2 linked regions of the Homo sapiens genome follow. The protein of the gene in region 1 interacts with the protein of each later gene in a pairwise test. Each region holds a gene or a part of one and is shown in the gene's direction. Other genes may lie near its edges.

Region 1 (3,500 bases):
TATGTATGTATTTTGTTAATAATGTAACTTTGCCCTTTCTTTTCCTACTGTTGTTAATTTTATAATTTACAATTTATCTTTAAGAATCTACATCTTACTAACTTTAGAATTTTGTATAATGAACATATTATTCAGTGTTGTTAACGTAGTGAGGAAAAAACAATTGATATAATACCTCTATTAAAATAATTATTAAACTCTTACTATCTTTACCTACTTTAGTGTTTTCTTTGTAACATGAAATTGTTGTGCGTCATAGTGCATGAAACTTTGCCTGTCTCCACTTTATTTTATTCCATGGCTTTAAGAATAAAAGTGCGAACGGGTATGAGAGCAGGAGCACTAGCCTTTGTTTTCTTAATTACTTCGAAGAGGCAATAAGATTGTGGTCAGCTATTAGCGCAAAAGTGAATTCTAAACAGTAAAATCAGATCTAGCTTTTTCTTTGTGTTATAAAAGCTGAATATGTAAAAGAAGCATAATTATTATTTAAGGTGGCACAGATCAGATTCTGCCCCAAGAAATAAAATTTCAAGGTTCCAGGCACCGATTTCTGCACCGGAGTACACGTAAGATTTTATCTGCTCTGCTTTTGACAAGTAGTTGTTTTGATTTTGAAGGATTATGTTAATACTAATCTATTCACCAGGTAATTGACGTATGCTATCCTAATTATCTTCCTGTTTGGCTTTTTAGTACCTCTGTTTCAGGATTTCTCAAACTGTCATTATATGCTTTATTAAGGAAAAAAAAAAACTAGACCATCTAAGGAAGTTGTATATGATTTTGCATGTGTTGGTGAAAGGAACCTGAAATATAATATGCACATAAGGACCAAGCATCCTTTTTTGTTTATTTTGCTTTGGTTGGTATAATAGTTCTCAACAGATTCAACGTCACCTGGTGCAGTGATCCCAATTTTTTTTTTTTTAATTTCAGCGCACTGTCTTTTCTTCTTCTATCTTGTTTCTGAAGGAGAATGGAGCATAAGTGTGGTTTGTCATTTATTTTATAATCCCATAGATGAAAACGATGCTTGGAAGCACTTTTTTGCTATTATTAAACCCACTCTTTCCATGTGACAAAATAAGGTATGAGAATGACTCACTCATGGAGCACAACGTTTTGGTATATAATACAGGTATTCAATAGCTAATACACTTCTTAAGCAACAGAAGAAACTGCACCGAAAGCCAACAGTTTTCCTCTTATTCTGGTTCTATTATTATGCTTCCAGGAACTATTCAGTTGCCATAGATAGTGGCAATATATTAAAATTTCCTCTGTATTTACAATTCCAAGAGAAATTAATATATTTGTGTTTTAGTGAAAATTTTTTCTCTTTATTGTTTTACCCTATTTTTTGGAAGAGTGATACCTCACCGAAGAGGTTAAATTCACAGGTTGGGAAACATTATTCCTATGAAAACTCAAAGAGGTACTTGATTTTGAACTTACTTTTAATAATGATATAGTTATGCCAAGTAAATTTTTATTTAAATTTTAATTCTGACAATTGGCTGGTGTTTTTTTGGTTGTTTTGTTTTTTTCTTTTGAGACGGAGTCTCACTGTGACTTCCAGGCTGGAGTGCAATGGCGTGATCTCAGTTCACTGCAACCTCCACCTCCCGGGTTCAAGCGATTCTCCTGCCCCAGTCTCCCAAGTAGTTGAGACTGCAGGCACATGCCACCATGCCCGGCTAACTTTTGTATTTTTAGTAGAGACAGGGTTTCATCATATTGGCCAGGCTGGTCTTGAACTCCTGACCTCAAGTGCTCTGCCCACCTTGGCCTCCCAAAGTGCTGGGATTATAGGCATGAGCCACTGTGCCCAGCCCTGGTGTTGTTTATGTAACTCTTATGTGATAAGATTTCATGTAAGCATGAGGTAGAGCTATTACTAATGAAGCATGGTAAACATCAGTGCTTTCTTCAAAATTTTCTAATCTTTTCTTTTAAAAAGGTAATGTTGAGACTTTGCTATTTTATAATATCACTGGAATCAGTTTATCAAATTGCATTTTTATTAAATTACTAATATATATATAATGCCATTTACTTAATCTTCTCAGTGCCTTTGCAGTATGTTTACTTTTTTATTTTCCACAATAGTTCACTTGTCAAAACTACAGAAACAGGAAGTCATTAAACCTTGGTTGGGTCCATGAGTGGACGGAGATGAAAGCGCTGTTTCCCTCCACAGTTGATAGCTGTGGAGTACATTTTAGCTCCTGTCAAACTGATTGCTAAAATGGAGCTTATTCTTTTTTGTTTTTACATTTATTTGTAAAAAATACCAACAAGACTGCTTAAAGTTTTAAAAAGGAAAGACAATTGCTAAATTATTTATTGCCTCTAATTACTAATGTAGTTTTGGCAGTCTTAATGGTGATTTATTTCATCTGTGGATGGAATTAAATGTTACCAAACAAGGACATTTAATCTATACAACACTGGCAAAAGTAGTCATCAATTAAAAAAAAAAAATACTCCCGATTTCGTTTTTTGTTTATGGAGGATTGCCATACACATGAATGAAAAGCTAATTTTTTTACTAATCTTTGAAATGTTAATTTCTTTTGAGAAACAACTAGAACCTCAAGTTATGTTTTTGATGCTGGTTTTTGAGGAAATAAATATCTTTACTAGTATTGATAAAAACTTAATTTCATCTTTTATCTTTCTACATAAGTATTTTTCATGTTAAATTATAACTGAGGATCATGTAAGGTTTTTTCTCATTGTATTCCAATTTCATGTGATCGTAAAATCTTAGAATTGAGAGAGATCTTATAGATTGTTTTAGAATCCAACCTTCTGCATTCCATCTTAGGAACTCTTTGCAGTTAGTCTGAAGTAAGTTTATGTTTGACTATTTTATAAGATGACCTCCTCATTTCCTATATATGGACAGAAAATACTTGTACTTTTACAGTTTAAATAAACAATTCATTATTGTTTGTTTCTGGCAAAAGGATTTCTCTTAGAGGAAGTAACCCTTCTTTTATTTTAATTTTTAATGGGCCAACATCCATTAAGTTTTTTTCATGGATTTGAGTTTAGTTCATTCATACTGTTGCCCCAAGATTATAATTCTAAATATTGATTATTGTAGCCTTTAATATGTTAGTATATAGCTGGTTTATTTATCAGTACAGAATGATACACAAAGTGTTCAATTTAAACCCCCAAATGCAAAGGCAAAGTACGGATTTGTCCTTTAAAACTTGCTTGAGTGAATTTAGGCAGTTAACGCTGGCTGCTCTATCAAGAAGAGTGTAAGATGGATTGTTTGTTTATGTTGATGTAGAACTGACCATTTTTTAATTCTCACAAGCAGTAAGAGCTTCAGGTTTTCCCAGTGCTGCCTAAAGAGAATTCTGAGTGTAAGACTAACATATAGTTTTGTTTCACAAATAGGATGTTTTTTTTATTTGTTTGTTTGTTTGTTTATTTGTTTTTACCCTTCTGGAATGCCTGGTATGGGTTTTGCCAATTAC
Region 2 (3,500 bases), on another chromosome or scaffold:
CCCTCAGCCAGACCTCATCCCTTGCTGGGCCTAGAGCTTATGTAGGAGATGTGACCCGTCCTTGGCCCACACATTGCCTCCTTCTTTTGGGCATTTGCAGCCACCTAGTTCTAAGCAAACCTCCAGCCTCTGGGTAGCCTGGGAGTGGGACCCATCATCAGCCTTCGTCCTGGGCCTGACCTCTTCTGTCTTCTATTTGCTCCCAATCCCTAGCTGAAGCCAGGGCACAGGGTGATGTCCTGAATACAAAGCACTAAATGAGGATAGTTCAGGTCCAGGTCCTCTCTCTTACCTCTTTTCTTCCTCTCCCATAATTCAGAAAGACCTGCTGGGGAGGCACTGTGGGTCCCGTGGGGGAAAGCTTGGCCTGGTGTATCAGTCTTGCCCTGTTGTGGGAGCCCTGAGCTGAATGGGGTAAATGCCTGCACCCTGCCCAGGAGATGAACTCAGGCTGAAGTGAGGTGGGAGTGTGTGGTGTGTCCCCAAGGTAGCTGACGCAGTGGCACTGTGGCAGCCTGTGTGAGGTGGGTGAGCTGCTCCTTCCCTTTTTTGCCAACACTCCTGAGTGAGTAAGCAGGTGTTGGTGCAGGGTGGGGTGGTGGTGGGGAAGTGCTGGTGTCTGGGGTCTCTTAGAAATTCCTGCATCATGGGTGGTGTCCCAAGTCCCCATCTTGTTTCTGCATGTGGAAGACCCAGGTGGGAGGGAAGGCCCGGAGGTGTGTCTGAGGGACTGGAACTCTGAATCCAGTTTCTGGCAGACCCTGGGGGCACCTTGGCATGGTTCACTGACTTTTGCCTGTTAGGTGGAGAGGAATGTGAACATCTGCAACTCTCCCACCTTGGAAAGAGGCTTTATAGTCTCCTTGGGTCTGTGTGTGGGAGTGAGCTGCTCTGGGCTGTGGGTTTGTTAGATGGCCAGTGGTGTCAGTGGCAGAGCACGTTCTCATGTCCTGGCAATGCTTCCACACACTGCTGGCTGTCTGGGCTGTGGAAGGGGATGTGCCAGGGCTAGGAGGACCCCAGGCCCACCCAGGCTCTTCACCAGTGGGACCAGCCCAGTGTGACCTTGAGCTAGTGTCCTTGGCCACTGGCAGTCTGCTCTCCAAGGGCTCCCTGGGGCTAACTGAGGGAGAGGCAGCTGGCCTCGCCTTCCTCCAATGATTTTCCAATATTTACTGGCTCATTGACATATTGCCCGGGCCATGGCTCCTACTGTGCAGCAAGGACCTGAGAGCCAGCCCATGGTCACCCTGTCTTCCCTCCGAGGTTGCACCTGGCTGGGAGGGAAAGGGCTTGTCCTCTCTGCCTGATCACTCAGGGACAGAGCATATAGCTTGTCCTGCCCCTCACCTTCCATCCCCAGCCCCCACTAGAGTCATTCTTGCTCAGTGGGCAGAGCATGCAAGGGAGAGCAGTCTCCCAGGAAGGGCCAGGGGGCAACTACAAGCCCCTTCTCTGCCTGTGGGCCTGGCTTAGAAGTTTGCTCCTTTGCCTTCTTCCTGTCCCTTCTCTGCCCAAGTCTGAATTTTGGTAGGACCTGGTGCATGTGCTATAATGATTTGGGGCTGAACAGTCAATGGCATTTTAATTAGCTCCATGCCTCCCTCCAGTAGGGAGGACCAGGGCCCCCAGGTAACAGCAGGTAGGACCAGGCTAGTTTTGGGCCTGAGGCTGCCCCTCCAGGGGTCTGGGAGCAGGCTCTGGGACCTGGTGCTCCCTGTGTGAGATGCTGTGAGGAGGGAGAGCTGGGCAGAGAAGGAAGGGCTGTGTCGCAGGGCCACAGTTTTCTCTCCATCCTCTGTCTCCCTTGATCCTCTGTTCTCCCTGATGGCTTTGAGATGAAGGCGACGGCAAGGATGGAGGATGCAGTTTCCATGGCAACGGGGCTGTCCACAGCCAGGCAACTTCAGAGCCGGGCTCTCCGGAGGAAGCAGATGCGCAGAACAGCCGCAGAGCTGCCTCCCGCCTGCCAACGAGGGGGCTGGCAGAACAGGTGGCACAGGGTGGCAGCCTGGTGCTGCCCAGCCTAGGGGAGAGGGTGGAAAGAGCAGTACTCCCTCTTATTATCTTGTTATGGCCAAGTTCCTCCAGAAGGGAAGCTAGGGAGGTGGCTTGAGTGTTGAGAGGGGTTGGGCTAGGGTCCCCATTGTCCCTGGAATCTCTGGGTGGACACAGGCTCTGTCCTCTGGGATCTTCCCCCAAAAGCCAAATGTCTGCTGCTCTTGTGATGGCCACTCAGCTACTACCCTTTGGGTCCTTTGTCCAGAGTGTGAGGATGTTGGTGAAGGCCATGCCCTGACTAGATTCAGGGATCCTTTTCTTTCATCTAGCTACTGGGGAAGGACCTGGACCTTCTTCAGGGGCCTCCCTGCCCCTGGCCTCAGTGACCTGGACCAGTTTGCTGAGTTGGGTTCAGGTTTGGCAGATGCCTGCCTCTAAGTGCTGGCATTGGAGGGGCCCCAGAGCCTGACAGCTCCTGCTTCCTGACACTGTGATCTTGTTTAGCCTCCTCCTGGAGACCAAGGCTGGAGTGGGTATGTGAGTGGGTAGAGAAGCAAAGACAGCCATCTGTGTGTTTAGAAATGGGACGTGTCAGGGGCATGGACTCTTGAGATGGAGGAAGCCCCGAGGGCACCCAGGTTGGCAAAGAAGATTTGACTCCAACTATTAAAAAATAATGACTTTCCTTCACCGACCTTGGAAGCATCAGGGCTAGGGTGTTCTACTTTGCTGTTGAGCACATGGAGACTTAGGATGGAAGGCTTTGCCTGGATCACCCATGGAGTCAGAGGCTGAGCCACAGCCAGACCTGGGACAGGCCATCCACCTCCCGCGTGGCCTCCTAGATGCACCCTCCCTTCAGCTGGCTGCTGAGGGTCCTAGCTAGGTAAACCTTTCAGGCTCACTCCTCTTTCCCTTTATCATCCGTGGGCTTGCTTTTAACCCTTCTTTGCTAGCTTGCTTTAGTTGAAGGAGGTTCCTCAACCCTAGGGTTGGCCAGGCAGGTGGACAAGTGGAGTCTTGGAGTGGCTTCTCCTTGCCAGGCAATAAGTCTCTCATTACTGCTAAGTGGAAGGCTCATTTCAGAGCTCATGGTGAGAGCGGGGCGAATGCTATAAATAGTCGTGTTGTGAAGATTGGCGGGTGAGCAGTGACAGGGCAGGGGCCTTGCAGTCATCATAGTGGGTATTTGTGCTCCTTCGCAGGAAAGGTGGCGGGGCAGGCTCTGAGTAAGAGGCAACTTGACCCCTGTTCTGGCTGTCCCTGCCTGCCTCAGGGTGGCTCTGGCATGTCTGTGCCCCTCCATACTCATTGGGGGATGGGGAGCACTGGATTCTGTGTCTAGGCAGAGGGAGGTGGAGTGCCTTTTGGAACTTGGGGCCCAAAAGGTGGTACATCAGCCCACTGGGTAATGTCCTGTGCTAGATCTACTTGTCCTACCTGACCTTCCAGTCCAGGGTCTCCCTCTTCCCCATCAGCTAAAACCTGAGTTTACATGT

Evidence for each region. Proteins that work in one complex are often made in the same cells at the same time.
Region 2: the proteins of MFF (region 1) and TEX264 interact in binary tests that used the Homo sapiens proteins (3 or more experiments, as listed by UniProt).

Annotation. Positions count from the first base shown.
Region 1 is NC_000002.12:227,342,251-227,345,750, forward strand, and holds part of MFF (mitochondrial fission factor), read left to right. Parts: intron 1-494; coding exon of another isoform or gene 495-569; intron 570-3,500. UniProt on the Homo sapiens protein: Plays a role in mitochondrial and peroxisomal fission. Promotes the recruitment and association of the fission mediator dynamin-related protein 1 (DNM1L) to the mitochondrial surface.
Region 2 is NC_000003.12:51,695,252-51,698,751, forward strand, and holds part of TEX264 (testis-expressed protein 264), read left to right. Parts: intron 1-3,500. UniProt on the Homo sapiens protein: Major reticulophagy (also called ER-phagy) receptor that acts independently of other candidate reticulophagy receptors to remodel subdomains of the endoplasmic reticulum into autophagosomes upon nutrient stress, which then fuse with lysosomes for endoplasmic reticulum turnover.